2 separate regions of the Homo sapiens genome follow, and region 1 is linked to region 2. Evidence: fine-mapped expression QTL. A gene starts in region 2. The other region holds a variant in brackets. All regions are shown on one strand. Distances are from middle to middle.

Region 1 (8,718 bases), 43 kb after region 2:
ACCCTTGAAGGAGAGGTAGGGGATGGATGGCTCACGTTAATCTTTGCACTATGAATGGAAGAGGAGTTGGTTCCCCAAAAGAAAACTACTAACCAGATAAGAGTAATGGAGAAGAATAAATAAATAAAGATGCATTGGAGATTTACAGCCAAACTGGAAGGAAGATTATGGCATTAACTAAGATAAAATACAAAAGAAGGGAAAGTACATAAGGCTTTGGAGTTGGGATCATAAGTTCAGCACTGAGTGTGTCTGAGATGCCATCAGAACATCCATGTATAATATGAAACAGCAATAGGAAATTTGGTTCTTGAGGTCAGAGCAAAGGGCTCAGGTTTGGAAGTCATTGGCTGGGAGTGAGAGATGGAGAAAATCTCCATGGAGAAAGGTGAGATCACCAAATCTTTGAGGCATATCAGACTCTGCTGCAGTATCCTGAAATCTTTTACTGGTCTGAGTTCTGTTCTAACCATGAATGGTATTAACATCTATTTAATTCTCTGTACTTAACTCTTGCATTTGGAACTTGATGATTCTGCTGGGCTTATAGAATTCAAAATTCTGGTGAGGGTGTTTCCCAACTGTGACCTTTTATTTTTCTATCATCTTAGAATCTTCCATACTCAGCCTCTTCTGGTCTTCCTGTTCATGCAGTTGCTCACGATCCTGAGCCAACTGGGACCTGGTTTCAAGAGGTGAATTTAAGGTTAACTTTAACATAGTTCCAAGGCCTCCAAGTGGAAATGCCCAGGAAATAACTGGAGTTGTGAGACAGGAATTTGTGTGGAAAGTCAAGATTAATAGTAGCATTAGGACATCTTTTCTATAGAGGTGATGGTCTAATCTGTAATACTGGGTCAACTTCCTGAGGGCATGATTATAAGAATGGAGAAATGAGAGTCCTAGGATTGAGCCTTGGGAAAATTGTTTTGGGAGGTGGGTGGAAAAAAGTGAGTCAGGATCATAGATAAAAGGAATGTTTAAAGAAGTGGGAGAATACAAATGTCTCAATAGCTAAGGGAGGAGGAGGTTTCAAGCAGAGGATGGTCTATGGTATAGAGAAGTCAAGAAGAATGAAATGTGAGAAAAAGACCCTTGGACTTAGTAAAGTGAAAAATCACTTAGGAGTAAAAGTTTTTGGCCGGGCGCTGTGGCTCACGCCTGTAATCCCAGCACTTTGGGAGGCCGAGGCGGGCGGATCACGAGGTCAGGAGATTGAGACCATCCTGGCTAACACGGTGAAACCCCGTCTCTACTAAAAATACAAAAAATTAGCCAGGCGAGGTGGCTGGCGCCTGTAGTCCCAGCTATGCGGGAGGCTGAGGCAGGAGAATGGCGTGAACCCGGGAGGCGGAGCTTGCAGTGAGCTGAGGTGGCGCCACTGCACTCCAGCCTGGGCGACAGCGAGACTCCATCTCAAAAAAAAAAAAAAAAAAAAAAAAGTTTTTGCAACTTTTCATAAAATGATAGAACGGAATCCAGAATTCAGGGAGGTGGAAGAAAATAATGGATGGTGAGGAAATGGGGATCAATCAAACTAACACGTAATTATTGAGCTCTTAACAGTGATCATGGCATTGTGTCTATACTGTTGTCAACTTAATTATTACTGCCCTCTAGGAGTATCAAACCAAGTTGAGATGATAAGGAATCCATGAAAATATTCATTGCAATAAATTCAGAAGATGTCATAAGGTAGACCATGATTAATGCATAATGCATGATATGGACAATAAAAGTATACTTGTTAAGAGTGAAATGAGGATGCTTTGGTTTGGAGTTCTCTGGGAAAGCTCTTGTCTGTTCCTGCTTCCTGTAGTCTACCCATCCTCTTTTAGGATAAGGGCTTCTGATTTCCCATGACTTAGGAAACAGAATTAAGACTGTTTCATTCATTGAAGATCAGAATGCCCTGCGTACAGTCTGGAAAAGTAACATGTGCCGCCTGAAGAGACAAGAGTTTGTGATAAGCAGGTAAGCTCTTCTAGTCTGCCCCAGAAGCCTCACACAAAGTGGGTTGTTTTAACAGTAAGAAATAGGGGTTATGTGGGACACACGAGCAGTTGTGGAGAGTCAGGACTCCTGTACTGATGGGAAGAATAGAGCTATCAGAGGCCCTGTAAGTATAGGATTTTAGCTGAATGTGGAACAGACAGGCATCTTTAGTAGTTCATGGCTTTGAAGCTGCTTGGTGTGGAAGAAGTGGAGCTCGTGGTGTTTTCCATTTTCCTTTCACTGAGGTCTCTGGTAATGTTCATTTTCCTCAGTTACTATCTTCATGTTGAAAGGAGAAATACTCTTTTCATTTTCCTTATTAGTCATTAAGGCTAAAGTTAGGCTGAGCAGAGAAATGAATGCAGGCTCAGAACTGGCTGTTAGAAAAATAGACGACCATCTCCACAGGCTAGTACATAGTACATCATTTTTCCTTTGTAAGTGTTGTATTAACTTGTGTCTGGGTTTTAAGAAGAGAATAAGTAGCCTCCATTAAATCCTGCTGCTAGATAAAACTGGTCTCAAAGCAGATAGTTATCAGTCTTCTAAGTAGGACCTTGTTTGCCTGTCAGTGTGATGCAGTGCTTTCCTCTAGAAGAAAACAATCAAACTGTTATCCTTGAGTCTCATGTTATTTTTGCAGATATTTGCCAGAACCACACAAGTAAGTTGGGATTCAAACCAGGTTTTCCAAAATGTGGAACTTGAGCACTGTGCTTCAAGAATTGCGCAGAATGCAATCAGAAGCCTGGGTGGTTTTAGTTATAGTGCTTCATTAAGTGGCAGTATGAATATATAAACAATATTTCTCCTCTGTGGACCCCAGTTTCCTCAATTTCTCTAGTCTAGATGATTGAATTTTCAAAATCACCCACCTCTGAAATTTTAGAATATATCCTTATACCTGCACACGTAAATTAAGCCTGGTGATTCTAGTAGCATAAATTTTCCCCGGTTGATGCTAATGGCCCAGAACGTTTTCCTTTGATGACCTTGCTTCAGAGAAAAGTGGCTTGTAGTAAATGGAGTAATGTGAGTAGCAGTGAAATTGTTAGGCGATTAGAGAATCAGGGCATTGACATACCCTGAAAAAACACTGAACTAAAAGCTGAGACATCTGGGGTCTGGTCCTAGTATTGACATTAACTAATTTCGGGACCTTGGGCAATCACTTGATCTATTCTGGGCTTTAATTTTCCCATTTATAAAATCAAAGCATTGAACTAACATCTCTAGTTCCCAGCTATGCAGTTGGAGGATCAATTCCTAGAATAATTATCTGCTGCAATTGCACTTTCTATTCCAGTACCCAGACAGACCATAGTGATGTTTACGTCCATTGCCTAGGAGTATTTACCACTAAATGGTTGGATTGTCTGATATTTCTAAGCAGAGCACAGACTGTGACTTCTGACCAAGAGAAACGGTTGCTACATCAGCTCCGAGAAATCACCAGGGTCATGAAAGAAGGAAAATTCATTGACAGATTTTCTCCAGAGAAAGAAGCTGAGGAGGCCCCTTACATGGAGGACTGGGAAGGTAAACAGTGTCTTCTCATTTTTTTGTTAGCTGTCAGCCCAGAAAAGAGATGTTACAGATTTTTAAAAAATCAGCTTCATTATTGAGGTATAATATATAAACAGTAATATTAACCAGTTTTAAATGTACGGTTGGATGAGTTTTGACAAATATATAGAGTTTGTGTAATCACACCGTAATTTTGATAAAGAACATTTCCATTACTCCAGAAAGCTCCCCCTTTGTAGCTAATGCCCTTCTCCTGCCCCTGGAAACAACTGAAGTGCTTTCTGTGCCTTTAGTTTTGCCTTTTCTATGTAAGTGATCATACTGCATATACTCATTGGCTTCTTTGATTTAGCGTAATACTTTTGACATTCATGTTTGTTATTGAGTGTATCTGAAATTTTTTTCTTGCTGAGTAGTAGTCAGTTATATACTTATACCATAATTTGTTTGTCCATTCACCAGTTGAGGAGCGTTTGGGTTATTCCTAGCTTTGCACTCTTATGACTCAAGCAGCTATGAACTTTTGCATATGAGTCTTTGTTTGAACATATATTTGTATTTCTTTTGAGTCTATACCTAGGAGTGAGATTTTTGGGTTTAAGGTAATTGTATATTTAACTTTGTTTTTGTTTTTCAAGACAGTCTCACTTTGTCGCCCAGGCTGGAGTTTGCAGAGCAATCTCAGCTCGCTGCAACCTCTACCTCGTGGGTTCAAGTGATTCTCCTGCCTCAGCCTCCCAAGTAGCTGAGATTACAGGTGCCTGGCACCACACCTGAATAATTTTTGTATTTTTAGTAGAGACGG[A/G]GTTTCACCATGTTGGCCAGGCTGGTCTCAAACTCCTGACCTCAAGTGATCTGCCTGCCTCAGCCCCTCAAAGTGCTGGGATTATAGGTGTGGGCCTGTGGGCCACCGCGCCCGGCCACCTGTTTAACTTTATTAGAAACTGTCAACCTGCTTTCCTAAGTAGGTCTACTTTTTCCCTTCCCACCAGCGGTGTATGGCAATTAAAGTTCCTCCACATCCTTGGTAACACTTTGTCTTGTCAGTCTTTTTAATTTTATCCATTCTAGTGAGTGTAAAATGATACCTTAATTGTGACTTTAATTTACCTTTCTCCAGTGACTAATGATGATGAACATTTTTTCATGTGCTTATTTGCCATCTGCATATCTTTGAAGTGTCTGTTCAAGTAGTTTGCCAATTTTTAAATTGGGTTGATTAGGTTCTTGTTGGGTTGCAAGAGTTCTGTATATATTCCGAGTACAAATTCTTTATCATTTCTGTATTTTGCAAATATTTTCTGTAGCTTGCCTTTATATTTTCTTAACAGCATCTTTCAAAGAGTAGAAGTTTTAAATTTTGATGAAGTCCAACTTAACCATTTTTTTCTTTACGATTTACTTTTTTTTTTTTTTTGAGACAGAGTCTTGCTCTGTCACCCAGGCCGGAGTGCAGTGGTGCCATCTCGGCTCACTGTAAGCTCCACCTCCCAGGTTCATGCCATCCTCCTGCCTCAGCCTCCCTAGTAGCTGGGACTACAGGCGCCTGCCACCATGCCTGGCTAATTTTTTTGTATTTTTAGTAGAGACGGGGTTTCACCATGTTAGCCAGGATGGTCTTGATCTCCTGACCTTGTGATCCACCCACTTCGGCATCCCAAAGTGCTGGGATTACAGGTGTGAGCCGCCGTGCCCAGCCCATTTTTTATGTTCTGTTTAAGAAATATTTGGCTAACCCAAGGTTTCCCAATTCCCATGTTTTCTAGAAATTCTACAGTTTTAGCTTTTACATTTAGGCCTGTGATCTATTTTGAGTTAACCTTTATAGATGATCTGAGGTGTCAGGACTGAGGTTTATTTTTTTCCATATCAAATACCCAATTGTTCAGCTTCTTTTGTTACATTTAATTAGCTTGACATTTGCTTGACAAACCAGTTGACCATGCGTGTGCTTGTCTCTTCTGGGCTCTATTCTGTTCCATTGATCTGTATGTCTCTACTTGTACCAATAGCACACGGTCCTTATTACTATGTCTTTATAGTAAGTCTTTATTTTGGGTAGTTCAAGTTGTTCAGATTTTTTTTCCCAAGATTATTTTGGCTATTTCCTTCACAATTTCAGATAAATTTACAATCAGTTTGTCAGTTTTTATGAAAAAGCCTGATGGGATTTTGATTGGTACTGCTTTGAATCTTTAGATCAATTTGGAAGAATCAATACTGTAACGATATTGAATCTTCTAGTTCATGAACGTCTTATATCTCACCATTTATTTAGATCTTTTAAAAGTTCTCTCAGCAGTGTGTTGTAGTTTCCAGTGTATAGGTCTTGCATATGTGAGGGATATTGGTCTGTGATTTTCTTTTCCTGTAATTTCTTTGGTTTTGATTTCAGGGTAATCCTGGCCTCATAAAATGCATTGGGATGTGTTCCTTTTTCTATTTTCTGGAAAAGTTTCATAGAGTTACTGTTATTTATTCCATAAAAGTTATGTGGAATTCTCCAGTGATATTATCTTGGTCTGGAGTTGCTTGCTTGCTTGCTTGCTTGCTTGCTTGCTTTCTCTTTTTCTTTTTCTTTTTCTTTCTTTCTTTCTTTTTTTTTTCAGGGTCTTGCCCTGTTGCCCAGGCTGGAGTACAGTGGCACGTGATCATGGCTCACTGTTTGATCTCCTGGGCTCAAGCAACCCTCCCACCTCAGCCTCAGTAGCTGAGCCTACAGGCATGCACTACCATGCCTGGCTAATTTTTTAATTTTTCAATTTTTTAAATTTAAAAAATTAGCCAGGCGTGGTGGTGCATGCCTGTAGGCCCAGCTACTCATGCCTGGTCTTGAACTCCTGCTCTTAAGCAATCTTCTGGTCTTGGCCTCCAAAATGCTGGGATTATAGGCATGAGCCACTGTGCCCAGTTGGCCTGGAGTTTTATTTGTGGGAAGATGTCTATGAATTTAATGTATTTTATGGATATAGTGCTATTCGTTCATTCACTTCTTGAGTGAACTTTTGATAGTTTGTATCTTTCAAGGAATTTACATAGTTCATCCATATTGTCAACTTTATTGTTAGTATAAAGTTGTTCATAATATAGTCTAATTATCCATTTAATATACGTAAGATCTGTAGGGTGCACCCTCTTCTATTCTTGATCCTGGTAATTTGTTTCTTTTCCTGATCAAGCTGCCCAGAGGTTTATCATCCTTGTTGATCTTTTCAGAGAACTGTAATTTGGTTTCTTTTTGTTTGTTTGTTTCTTATTTCATTGACTTGTGTTTCTTTCTTTCTGGTACTTTTGGTTTAATTTGCCTTTCTCTAGTTTCTCAAGGTGGAAGCTTAGACCCATGATCTATATTTTTGGCCATTATTTTATTAATGATCTGTGTCTTTTTGTCTCTCTTTTATTTCCTTCTGGCTCTCCAGTTGCATATATGTTTGATATTGCCCCACAGGTCATGTGAGTTCTGTTCACTTTTTTTTTTCTTACCATGCTTAGTTTTGAATAGTTTTTCTTGCTATGTCTTCAGGTTTATTGATGTCTTCTTCTACTGTATCTAACCCACTGTTAATCTTATTCAGTGTTTTTTAATTTCAGACATTATCATCTCTAGAAGTTTCATTTGGGTCTTTTTTATGTCTCATTTATTCATATTTTACTCTCTTAAACGTATGATTCATATCTGTAATAGCTTTCTTGACTGTTTTAATTGCTAATTTCATCATCCATGCCATTTCTGGGAATGTTTCTGTTGACTAATTTTTCTCCTGGTAATGGGTCCTAATTTCCCTTTTTTTTTTTTTTTTTTTTTTGCATACCTGGTAGGTTTTGATTGGATGATGGATATTACAAATTTTGCATTGTTAGGTGCTGGATTTTGTTTTAGTACTTTAAATAGTGTTGGATTTATTAGGTTAGCATTTAGGTTAGTAGAAAATAGTTGAATCCTTTAAAGCTTTAACATTTTTTAGTTTGGGTCCAGAACAGCCTTTATTCTAGGGCTAATTATTTAGTTATATGCTTATACCATAATTTGTCCATTCACCAGTTGAGGAACATTTGGGTTGTTCCTAGCTTTGCACTCTTATGACTCAAGTAGCTATGAACTTTTGCATATGAGTCTTTGTGAATATTTATAGCAGCTTAATTTCAATAGCCAAGAACTGGAAACAACCCATATGTCTTTTAGGAGGTGAATAAACTGTGGTACATATATATATACACACTGTGGTATACACTTAGCAATAAAAAGGAATGAACTATATATACAACAACCTAGATGAATTTCCAGAGAATTATGCTGAGTAGGGGGAAAAAACTAATTCCCAAAGGTTACATACTATATGATTCCATTTATAATTGACGTGGCAATATTATAGAAATAGAGGACTGATTAGTTGTTGCTAGGAGTTAAGAGGGGAATAGGAGTAGGGAAGAGTGAGTGTGCCATGAAAGGGCAACATAAGGGGTCCTTGTGGTGATGGAAAATGTTCTGTATACTGACTATATCAATATTAATATCCTGGTTGTTATATTGTAGTACAGTTTTGCTAGATGTTGCCTTTGGGAGAAACTGGATAAAGGGTACATGGGATTTCTGTATTACTAGTAGTAGTATTTTTTAAAGGGATAGAGTCTTAACCATGTTGCCCATGCTGGGACTCAGGCGATCCTCCCACCTCAGCCTCCTGAGTAGCTGGGACTCCAGGTGCATGCCACTGTGCCTGGCTTGTATTATTTCTTATATGCTGCCTGTGAATCTATAATTATCTCAAAATAAAAAAGGTTAATTTTTTTAAAAGCAACACAAATTCTAAGGGAAAAGATTGTGTAGCTTAAATACATAAAACTTTTACCTTCTGCAGATCAGAGAATATCACACAGTTTAAAAGACAAGAATAAACTGGAAAAATATTTATAACAAATATGATTGAAAAAAGTTATTATTATTTTTTTTGAGACAGAGGCTTGCTTGCTTTTTTGCCCAAGTTGGAGTGCTGTAGCTTGATATCTGCTCCCTGCAACCTCTGCCTCCTGGGTTCAAGTGATTCTCGTGCCTCAGCCTCCCAAATAGCTGGGACTACAGTCATGTGCCACCATGCCCAGCTAATTTTTTTAGTTTTAGTAGAGACACGGTTTTGCCATGTTGACCAGGCTGGTCTTGAACTCCTGGCCTCAAGCGATCTGCCCACCACAACCTCC
Region 2 (8,718 bases):
CAGGTGATCCACCCACCTAGGCCTCCCAAAGTGCTAGGATTATAGGCCTAAGCCACCACGCCCAGCCCCCTACCAATACTTTATTGGAAAACCTAAACCCTTAAGATCTTCAATTTTAGTGCACTCCCAGCTCTGATGTTATACCACCAGCCACCAGAGAGAGCAGCCATCCCAGGTCCCACTCCAAGCTGCCCCAGCTCCATGAGCTGCCTACCAGCTCTGTCGCCTTAAGGAGGCTTCCATGTCTTCCAGGTGCACATCCCAACTGACTGCAACAATGAATATGTTCCAAGCCAAATACTCTGTACTATAACTGTGTTTTCACCTTTCTCTAGGCCACTTCTAGGACTAATGAGATCACGATCTCTGCCCATTTACCTTGGCCACCATCTAAATTCCAAGCCCCCAAGGTCATCAATTTGCACACTGCCCCTCATCTCCATCCTGCTCACTTCATATTTTACTTTGACTCCATTTCTGACTTCCAAAGCTTCCACTTACCGTGCTGTATAGAGTCAAGAGCTATCATCAGAAAAACTCCTATATCCTTGACTTCTTTGAAGTTTCTCTTAACTTTCTTCTTCTTTTTTCTTTTTTTTTTATTTTGAGATGGAGTCTCACTCTGTCACCAGGCTGGAGTGCAGTGGCGCGATCTCAGCTCACTGCGACCTCTGCCTCCTGGGTTCAAGCGATTCTCCTGCCTCAGCCTCCCAAGTAGCTGGGATTACAGGCGCATGTCATCACGCCCAGCTAATTTTTGTATTTTTAGTAGAGGTGGGTTTCAGCATGTTGGCCAGGATGGTCTTGATTTCTTGACCTCGTGATCCGCCCCCCTTGGCCTCCCAAAGTGCTGGGATTACAGACATAAGCCACTGCGCCCGGCCTGTCTTCCTCTAATGAAAACTAGGCTGTTGCCTCTGGGTTCTGTTTCCCTTGCAGATCTCCCAAAGTAAGAGCTATTTTTCTTCCCACAGCTTAAAGCCTGGGAATAGAATAGATGCCCAACTTGTTTCCCCTTGCTGCTTCCAAATTGCTTCTTCCTCTTCTTCCTTTAAAAACCATAGCTCCTGGCCAGGCGCTGTGGCTCATGCCTGTAATCCCAGCACTTTGGGAGGCTGAGGTGGGTGCATAACAAGGATCGAGACCATCCTGGCTAACATAGTGAAACCCCATCTCTACTAAAAATACAACAAAAAAATTAGCCGGGCGTGGTGGCGGGCACCTGTGGTCCCTGCTACTTGGGAGGCTGAGGCAGGAGAATGGCGTGAAGCCAGGAGGCGGAGCTTGTAGTGAGCCGAGATTGCACCACTGCACTCCAGCCTGGGCAACAGAGCAAGACTCCATCTCAAAAATAAATAAATAAATAAATAAATAAATAAAAATTTTTAAACAATTAAAAAAAAACACAGCTCCTTAGAAGAGCATGTCATCTGGCTGCCCATTACTTCTTCTGTTCCTGTCACCTTCCAACCTTGTAGTAACTCCACATTCATTAAAGATTTTAACACTTGGATCACTATTTCCCACCTCATTTCTGTCCTCATACATGGGAACTTCAACATAATGTTGTGACCTAGGTTTCCATTGTGGCTTCTTACAACTTCACATGAGCACTCTCACTAATGCCATCTTCTCCTAGACTTCATTTACTATAGATGGGCTGATGATTTCCTATTGTTTCTAGCCCAAACATCTCTTCTGAGCTCCAGGCCCATATATCCAACTGGATATTTCTACTTGGATATTTCATGGAACTTCAAATTCAGCTAGTCAAAATCTGAACTCTTCATCTTTCTCACAAACCTGATTCTTCTATTCTTAAAATCATGTTATATAGAATTAATGTCTACCATTTACCCAAGCTAGAATTTGGTGGCGGAGGGCGGGGGGGAGTGTGGTCATTCCAGACCCCTCTGTATTTCTTAGAGACCACATCCCATTAGTCACCTCCTCCCTAAGCTGCATCTATAGTCCAGGAGTCCAGAGGTTTTCTGACTAAACCTCCCCAGACAGTAAACCTGGTAGCTAAGAGGGCAAATTCTTGAGTAAGCATGCCTGTGTTCAAATCATAGCATCCAGTTTATACTGTGTAATTGTTGGCAAGTAAATTATGTTTTCTGGGGCTCCATTTTCTTACCTGTGAAATGGGTATATAATAATATTGCTTACCTCTTGAAGTTATTGGGAGGAATAATTATGATATGTAAGATGCCTAAAACATAATTAGTACTCTAACTTTTAGTGATGTTAATAACATCAATGATAATAATGCCCGAGTGAAGCCAGCAGTGGCACCCATCTGGCTGCATGAATCAAGGAAAGAGATTCAGAAGATATCCATTGCTTTAAAAAAATCAAACAATTTTTTTTTAGAGACAGGGTCTCACTCTGTCACCCTGGCTGGAGTGGGTGCCCCTACTGGCTTCATTCAGGCATTATTATCATCTTATATATCATAATTAATTGTGGTTTCACACAATCATAGCTCACTGCAGCCTCAAACTCTTGGGCTCAAGTGATCTTCCCACCTCAGCTTCCTGAGTAGTTGGGACTACAGGTGCACACCACCATGCCTGGTTAATTTTTTACATTTTTTTGGTAGAGATTAGGGCTCTCCCTATGTTGCCCAGGCTGGCCTTGAACTCTTGGCCTCAAGCCATCCTCCAGCCTTGGCCTCCCAAAGCCCTGGGATTATAGGTGTGAGCCACTGTGCCCAGTCTCAACTGCTTTTTAATCAGATTTCCAGCCAATCCTTCATTCAGACCCACTCTGCACCCTTGGCTTTAAAGGAACCCAGTACCTCCAATTCTTAAGAGCATGGGTTCTGAGGGGCAAATTAGTTCACTCCTTACAGGCTTTCAGTCCACAGGCATTTAACTTTTTATGCTCTACACCTGCACTGTCTACTGTGGGCGCCAACGAGCCACACTATCGTGCTGATAAAATTTGAAATATTTTTGCTATCTTGGTTTAAAATATTATTAAAATAAATTTTACTTATTTTTACTTTTTAAATGTGGCTACTGGAAAAATTTAAATTACATATGTGGCTGGTATTATGTGTCTATTGGACAGTGTTGTGTGCGTCTTACAAAATTGACATTTCTCATCTGCTGTCATGTTTTCTATCATTGCATTTAGTCTTGTAGTTTATATACTTTATTTCTTTATTTTCCTTTTTGGGCACTGTCCCAGGAAAGCAAAGATAAATGCATATGTTACATCTGTCATGTTTAACTGGAAGTTCTACCTAAGCTTTTCACAATGTAGCTCCTGCTTATATTTGTGCACTTCGTGTCCTGTCACTACTCTATGGCCCTGCCAAAATGAATTACCAATAGCTTTCTGAACACACCAGGAAGCTTCCAGATTTGCCTTTATTTTTTTGGCCTCCTTTTTCCGGAATACCTTTCTAACCCCTCCCACCTGTCTGCCTATAAGTTACTCATTTTTCAACAGCTAACTCAATTTCACCTTCTCAAAGGGGCTTTTCTTGACTTTTCCTCGTACCAGTTGAGAAGACTGCTCGGGGATCCAGAATATTTCCTGCATTTTTTTTGTTTGGATAATTATCTGTCCTACAAAGGGAATCCATTTTATTCATCAGACCCTGTAGTGCCAAGTTGAGGGTCTAATACATAGTAAAAACTAAAATAATGTTAAATGAACGAATGAAGAGAGTAACAAAGAACGGTGGGATTGTAGAGAAAGGAGAGGCTGACTGAAAACGTTTCGAGAGAGCAGTGTTTTTAAGCTGTTCTTCAGAGAAGTTTTTGACAACTGGAGATGGTGTCAGGAATTTTCCAGGCAGTGGGAACAGGACAAGCAAAGCTTCCCTGAAGACAAGCAATATGCTAAAGAAATAGCAAATCATCCAGTTTGGAAGGAGCATTGGTAAGACCAGATCATGCAGGGCGTTGAGGTTATAGAAAGGAGTTTAACTATTGTTCTGAAGATAATGGAGAGTTAAAAGGTTTAAGCTGGAGAGAAAGAGAATTAGTCTTGTGTTTTAGCATTATCACCTGTGGCTGCAGACGGATAATGAATGCGAGGGGCATGAGTGGAAGCTGGAAGACAGCGAGATCATGGAGATGAGGAGAAACTGGATGTTGTGATCTACGGGTGGGTGGGGGGCAGTGGTGGTAAGTGGGGATAGAGATCCGGGCACGACCGCCGGATGTGTAGGCGGTAGAATGCACAGGACTCAGTAAAAGATGAACATGGGGAGTGAGGGAGGAGTTTTTAGTTAGTATGAACGGGAAGGCGAGGGTACCATTTACAGCGACGGGTAACCACGCGGGAGGAGCAGGTCAACTCCCGACAGTGGAGGTGAAGATGCGTGCGCCTCGCGCACCTTGTCCCTCGCGCGACGCCGTCCGCGCCGCCCGCGGTTCGGTCGGGAGCGGCAGCCCGTGCTCCGGTTCCGGTTCCGGTTCCGGCTGGCGTCTGCACCTGCGACCACCGTGAGCAGTCATGGCGTACTCCACAGTGCAGAGAGTCGCTCTGGCTTCTGGGCTTGTCCTGGCTCTGTCGCTGCTGCTGCCCAAGGCCTTCCTGTCCCGCGGGAAGCGGCAGGAGCCGCCGCCGACACCTGAAGGTAAGAGCAGGCCAGCTCCCTCTGAGCTTCCCGGCGCCGAAGAGTACGGAGAACGCTGCTTGAGGGAGGGGTGACTCTGAGAGTCTGCAGCCTTCACCGAAATATCCACCAAACTGACTGGAGAGGGCGGGCGAGACGGCGTTGAAGGGCCAATGCCCACGGTTCCGTTGTTATCAGCGGGTGGCGGCCCAGATGGTTCTGCTGCTGGAAGGGTCAGGAACGTATGCATGCAGGTCTGTGCATCCTCTAGGTGGCCTTGCGTACTCCCGTTTAGGCGCAGTCCCTTCTCTCTTACCCCGCTGGCTTAACTCATCTCGTCACCATTTGTTCACGTGCTTTGAGTCAAGGGTTCCCAGTTGGGTTTCCCTCTTTAGGTTTTCCGTGTACTTTCTGACGCGCCGCTTGGTACGAAATCAAGGCAAATGGAATTGGTACAGCAAACCTTAAGTCGTTATGTTTTTTCAACTTGGTGCTGGGCGCTCACTGCTTCAGGCTCTTCTTGTGCCTTTAAAAATATATCTTGAAGATTTTAATAACCCCAGTTTCAGTTACTGAGGTGGTTATGAACAAATTATTACGTTCCCCTTATTGAAACAGTATTTATCTGTTAATTCTTCGTTGTTGGCATGATGTATGTGGTGTTTAAAAATTCATCCTCTTAGCTGCACTGGGGCCTTTTACAGAATGAGTGTAAAGGCACGGTGCTGAAGGCTGGGAGAAGGAACCAGAACAGTTTTCTATAGGTCATGAAGTTCTACTGGTAACTTTCTCCTGTAAATTATCCTTGTAATATCTTTGAGACATGATTTTACGGTGTCTGAACACTTCCAGTAATGTTTAAACTGTTGATTGCTGGACAGCTCCTTTTGAACTGTAATCCACTTCCGTCTGCTTTATGCACATTGACTGTAGTTCCATTCTCTTGAGCATCATACACACTATAAATGCAAAGCACCAAGCTTTAGGGGTGGAGGGCAGGTTGAACACATAATTCTGTTTACAGAATTTGCCTGATAATCTTTATGCTTGTAAGACTATCCACTTGGGACGGACTTCTAAAACATCTTTGCGTATTTGTTCTTTTTTTTTCCTTTCTGTCTTATTGCAATAATCCCAAAGATTTTTACCTGCTTTGTCTAATGATATTGTCTACTTTGAAGAAGAGTCAATTCATGATGATCCTGAACAGTGAAGATTCTTCGAAAACTTTTTTTTTTTTTTTTTTACTTTCCATTATGGTGAATTATCTTGAACAAGTACTATTGACTGTGAGTGGGAGACACTCTTCTGAACGTTGTAGAAAATGTAGAGTGGAGATTAGACATGGGTTGTTCCCTTGAGAACTCAAGTGTTGGTATTCAGTGTTCTCATGTTAGGATCTTTGTACCTTCAGTTCTCTTTATTCCTGAAGTGCTGTGCTTTTCCCTCAGTGCCCTTCTCATCATTCAAATTTCTGCTCAAATGAAACCTCCTCAGAGAGACTTCCCCTGATGACACTAACTAAAATAACTCTTTTCTCCCATCATTCTCTATTTTATCATGTTTTATATTCTTCATGATAGGCATCACTATATGATATGGAATATTCTTAAGTGTTTACTTGTTTGTTTTTTTGTCTTCACCTTCTAGAATGTAAGTTTGCAAGGGTAGGGACTTTGTCTTGTTTACCACTGTTTCTTCAGTACCTGGCATATAATGGGCAGTCAATAAATACTTTAAGATTATTAAGCTACCAATACTGTAAATTCTGTTTTTGACAAGGAGAAGCTACTGAAGTAGTATAACCTAGGAAAAAACTTACCTTGAATGGTACATTCCAGTAACTGAAACTTGCAGCAAAAAATCTTAACCATTTTGGGGTTACATACACCATTGAGAATCTTATAAAAGCTATGTATTTTCTTTCTTTCTCTCTCCTTCCTCCCTCTGTCCCTCCCTCCCTCCTTTCCTCTCTTCCTGGCCCCCTTTCCCTTTCTCTTTCCCTTTCCCTGGGTCTCACTCTGTCACCCAGGCTGGAGTGCAGAGTCATGATCACAGCTCACTGCAGCCTCTACTTCTAGGGCTCAACTGATCCTCCCACCTCAGCCTCCCAAGTAACTGGGACTACAGGCACATGCCACCATGCCTGGCTAATTAAAAAAAATTTTTTTTGTTTTTGGTTGAGATGGGGGTCTCATTGTATTGTCCAGGCTGGTGTCGAACTCGTGGGTTCAAGTGATCCTTCTGCCTCAGCCTTCCAAAGTGCTGGGATTACAGGCTTGAGCAACTGCACTCAGCCTAAAACTGTATGTTCTCTCTAGAAAAAGGTACATACTCTTATTGTACTCAGAATTTCAGTATCAATTCAGAGAATTCTCAGAACCCAGAAATCCCTGCTTTGAAGAAAGGAATAACCCTGAGTATTTGAAAATTCTTAAAAATACATGTTGTTATGTCTTCCATTTTTGCCCATTGATGTGCATGAAACAAGCACAGTTCCCTTTCCACATGAAAGCCTTTAAGATAGTCTTTTAACAAATATTTATGATGTACCATATCACATACTGTGCACATAGTGTATAGACACTATGTATTCCAAGAAAAAATGAGCGAACTCCATGCTTTGAGGCGGCCACAGTTTAGTAAAGGAAAGTAGACATGTCAACAGATAAATGCAAAACAGACATGTTAGCAGATAAATGCAAGAGTGTCAGTCACAGTTACTCAAGTCTGCGCAGGGAACAATGGAGACATGTATGCAATGGTCAGTGTTATTGGGACTTAAGAAGGGTTTCATAAACCAGGTGTGACAGCTCATGCCTGTAATCCCAGCATTTTGAAAGGCTGTGGTGGAAGGATTGCTTGAGCCTGGGAGTTCGAGACCAGCTTGGGCCACATAACAAGACCCCCATCTCTACAAAATAAGTTTGTTTTTTTTCAATTAGCTGGGCATGGTGGTGTGCACCTGTAGCCCCAGCTACTCTGTAGGCTGAGGTGGGAGGATCGTTTGAAGTTTGGAGGTCAAGGCTACAGTGAGGTGTGATTGTGTAACTGCACTGCAGCCTGGGCAACACAGTGAGACTCTGCCAAAAAAAAAAACAAAACAAAACAAAAAAAAAACCCCAAAAAACAGGTTTCATAGAACATAGAGGAGGGAAGTCTTTTTTTTTTTTGATAACAGCTTTCTTGAGATCTAATTTATATATCATACAATTCACCCACTTAAAGTGTACAATTTATTGGGTTTCAGCATATTCAGAGTTGTACAACCATCACTACAACCAATTTTAGAATATTTCTTCAGCCCCCAAAGAAACCCTGTACTTTTTAGCTATTACTCCACAAATCCCCCAGCCCACCTCCAGCCCTAGGCAACCACTCATCTACTTTATGTCTCTATAGATTTGCCTGTTCTGGACATTTGGTATAAATGAAATCATATAATATCTGATCTTTTGTGACTGACGTCTTTTAACTAGCATAATGTTTTCAAGGTTCATCCATGTTGTAGCATGTAGCAGTACTTTTTTTATGGCTGAATAATATTTCATTGTGTGGATATACCACATTTCATTTATTCATTAATCAATTGATGGACATTGAATTTTTGCCTTTTAGCTATTATGAATAATGTTGCTACTGATATCTGTGTACAAATTTTTGTGTAGACTTAATGTTTTCATTTCTCTTGAGTGTATACATTTGGAAAATGTGAGCATTCCAGTGTGGCTGGAACTAAGCGTGGAATTTCTAGGTTGTATGGTTATTACATGTTTAACCTTTTGAGGAACTGCCAGACCATTTTCCAAAGCAGCTGTACCATTTTACATGACCACCAGCAGTGTAAGAGGGCTTCTGGTTTCTTGTCAATACTTGTTTGTTATCTGTCTTCTTGATGATAGCCATCCTAGTAGGAATGAAATGGTATCTCATTGTGATTTTATTTGCATTTCCCTGATGACTAATGACATTGAGCATTTTTTGTGTGTTTATTCACTCTTTGTCTATTTGTATATCTTGTTTTGGAGAAATGTCTATTCAGGTCCTTTTAACCCTCTTTAAAAGTCAGATTACTTGTCTTTTTTTTTTTTTTTTTTTTTTTTTTGAGAGAGACAGGGTCTCACTCTGGTGCACAGGCTGGA

Evidence for each region. PIP is the estimated chance that this variant, and not a neighbour inherited with it, causes the effect.
Region 1: its variant is fine-mapped to the expression of RIC3 in blood mononuclear cells (TOPMed, PIP above 0.99). The same link has a PIP of 0.9 or more in T cells, esophagus mucosa, esophagus muscle, gastroesophageal junction, left ventricle and sun-exposed skin.

Annotation. Positions count from the first base shown.
Region 1 is chr11:8,121,475-8,130,192 of GRCh38, reverse strand. It overlaps RIC3 (RIC3 acetylcholine receptor chaperone), which reads left to right. Exons shown (of 6, transcript NM_001206671.4): 5 at 3,386-3,534. Among named protein-coding and RNA genes, the nearest start is that of RIC3, 43 kb to the left of the region's middle. The variant A/G (reference allele first, on the strand shown) is at 4,328.
Region 2 is chr11:8,164,745-8,173,462 of GRCh38, reverse strand. It overlaps RIC3 (RIC3 acetylcholine receptor chaperone), which reads left to right and starts at 4,438. Exons shown (of 6, transcript NM_001206671.4): 1 at 4,438-4,597. The coding sequence starts at 4,474. It overlaps RIC3-DT (RIC3 divergent transcript), which reads right to left and starts at 4,393. Exons shown (of 5, transcript NR_187234.1): 1 at 4,274-4,393; 2 at 3,475-3,578.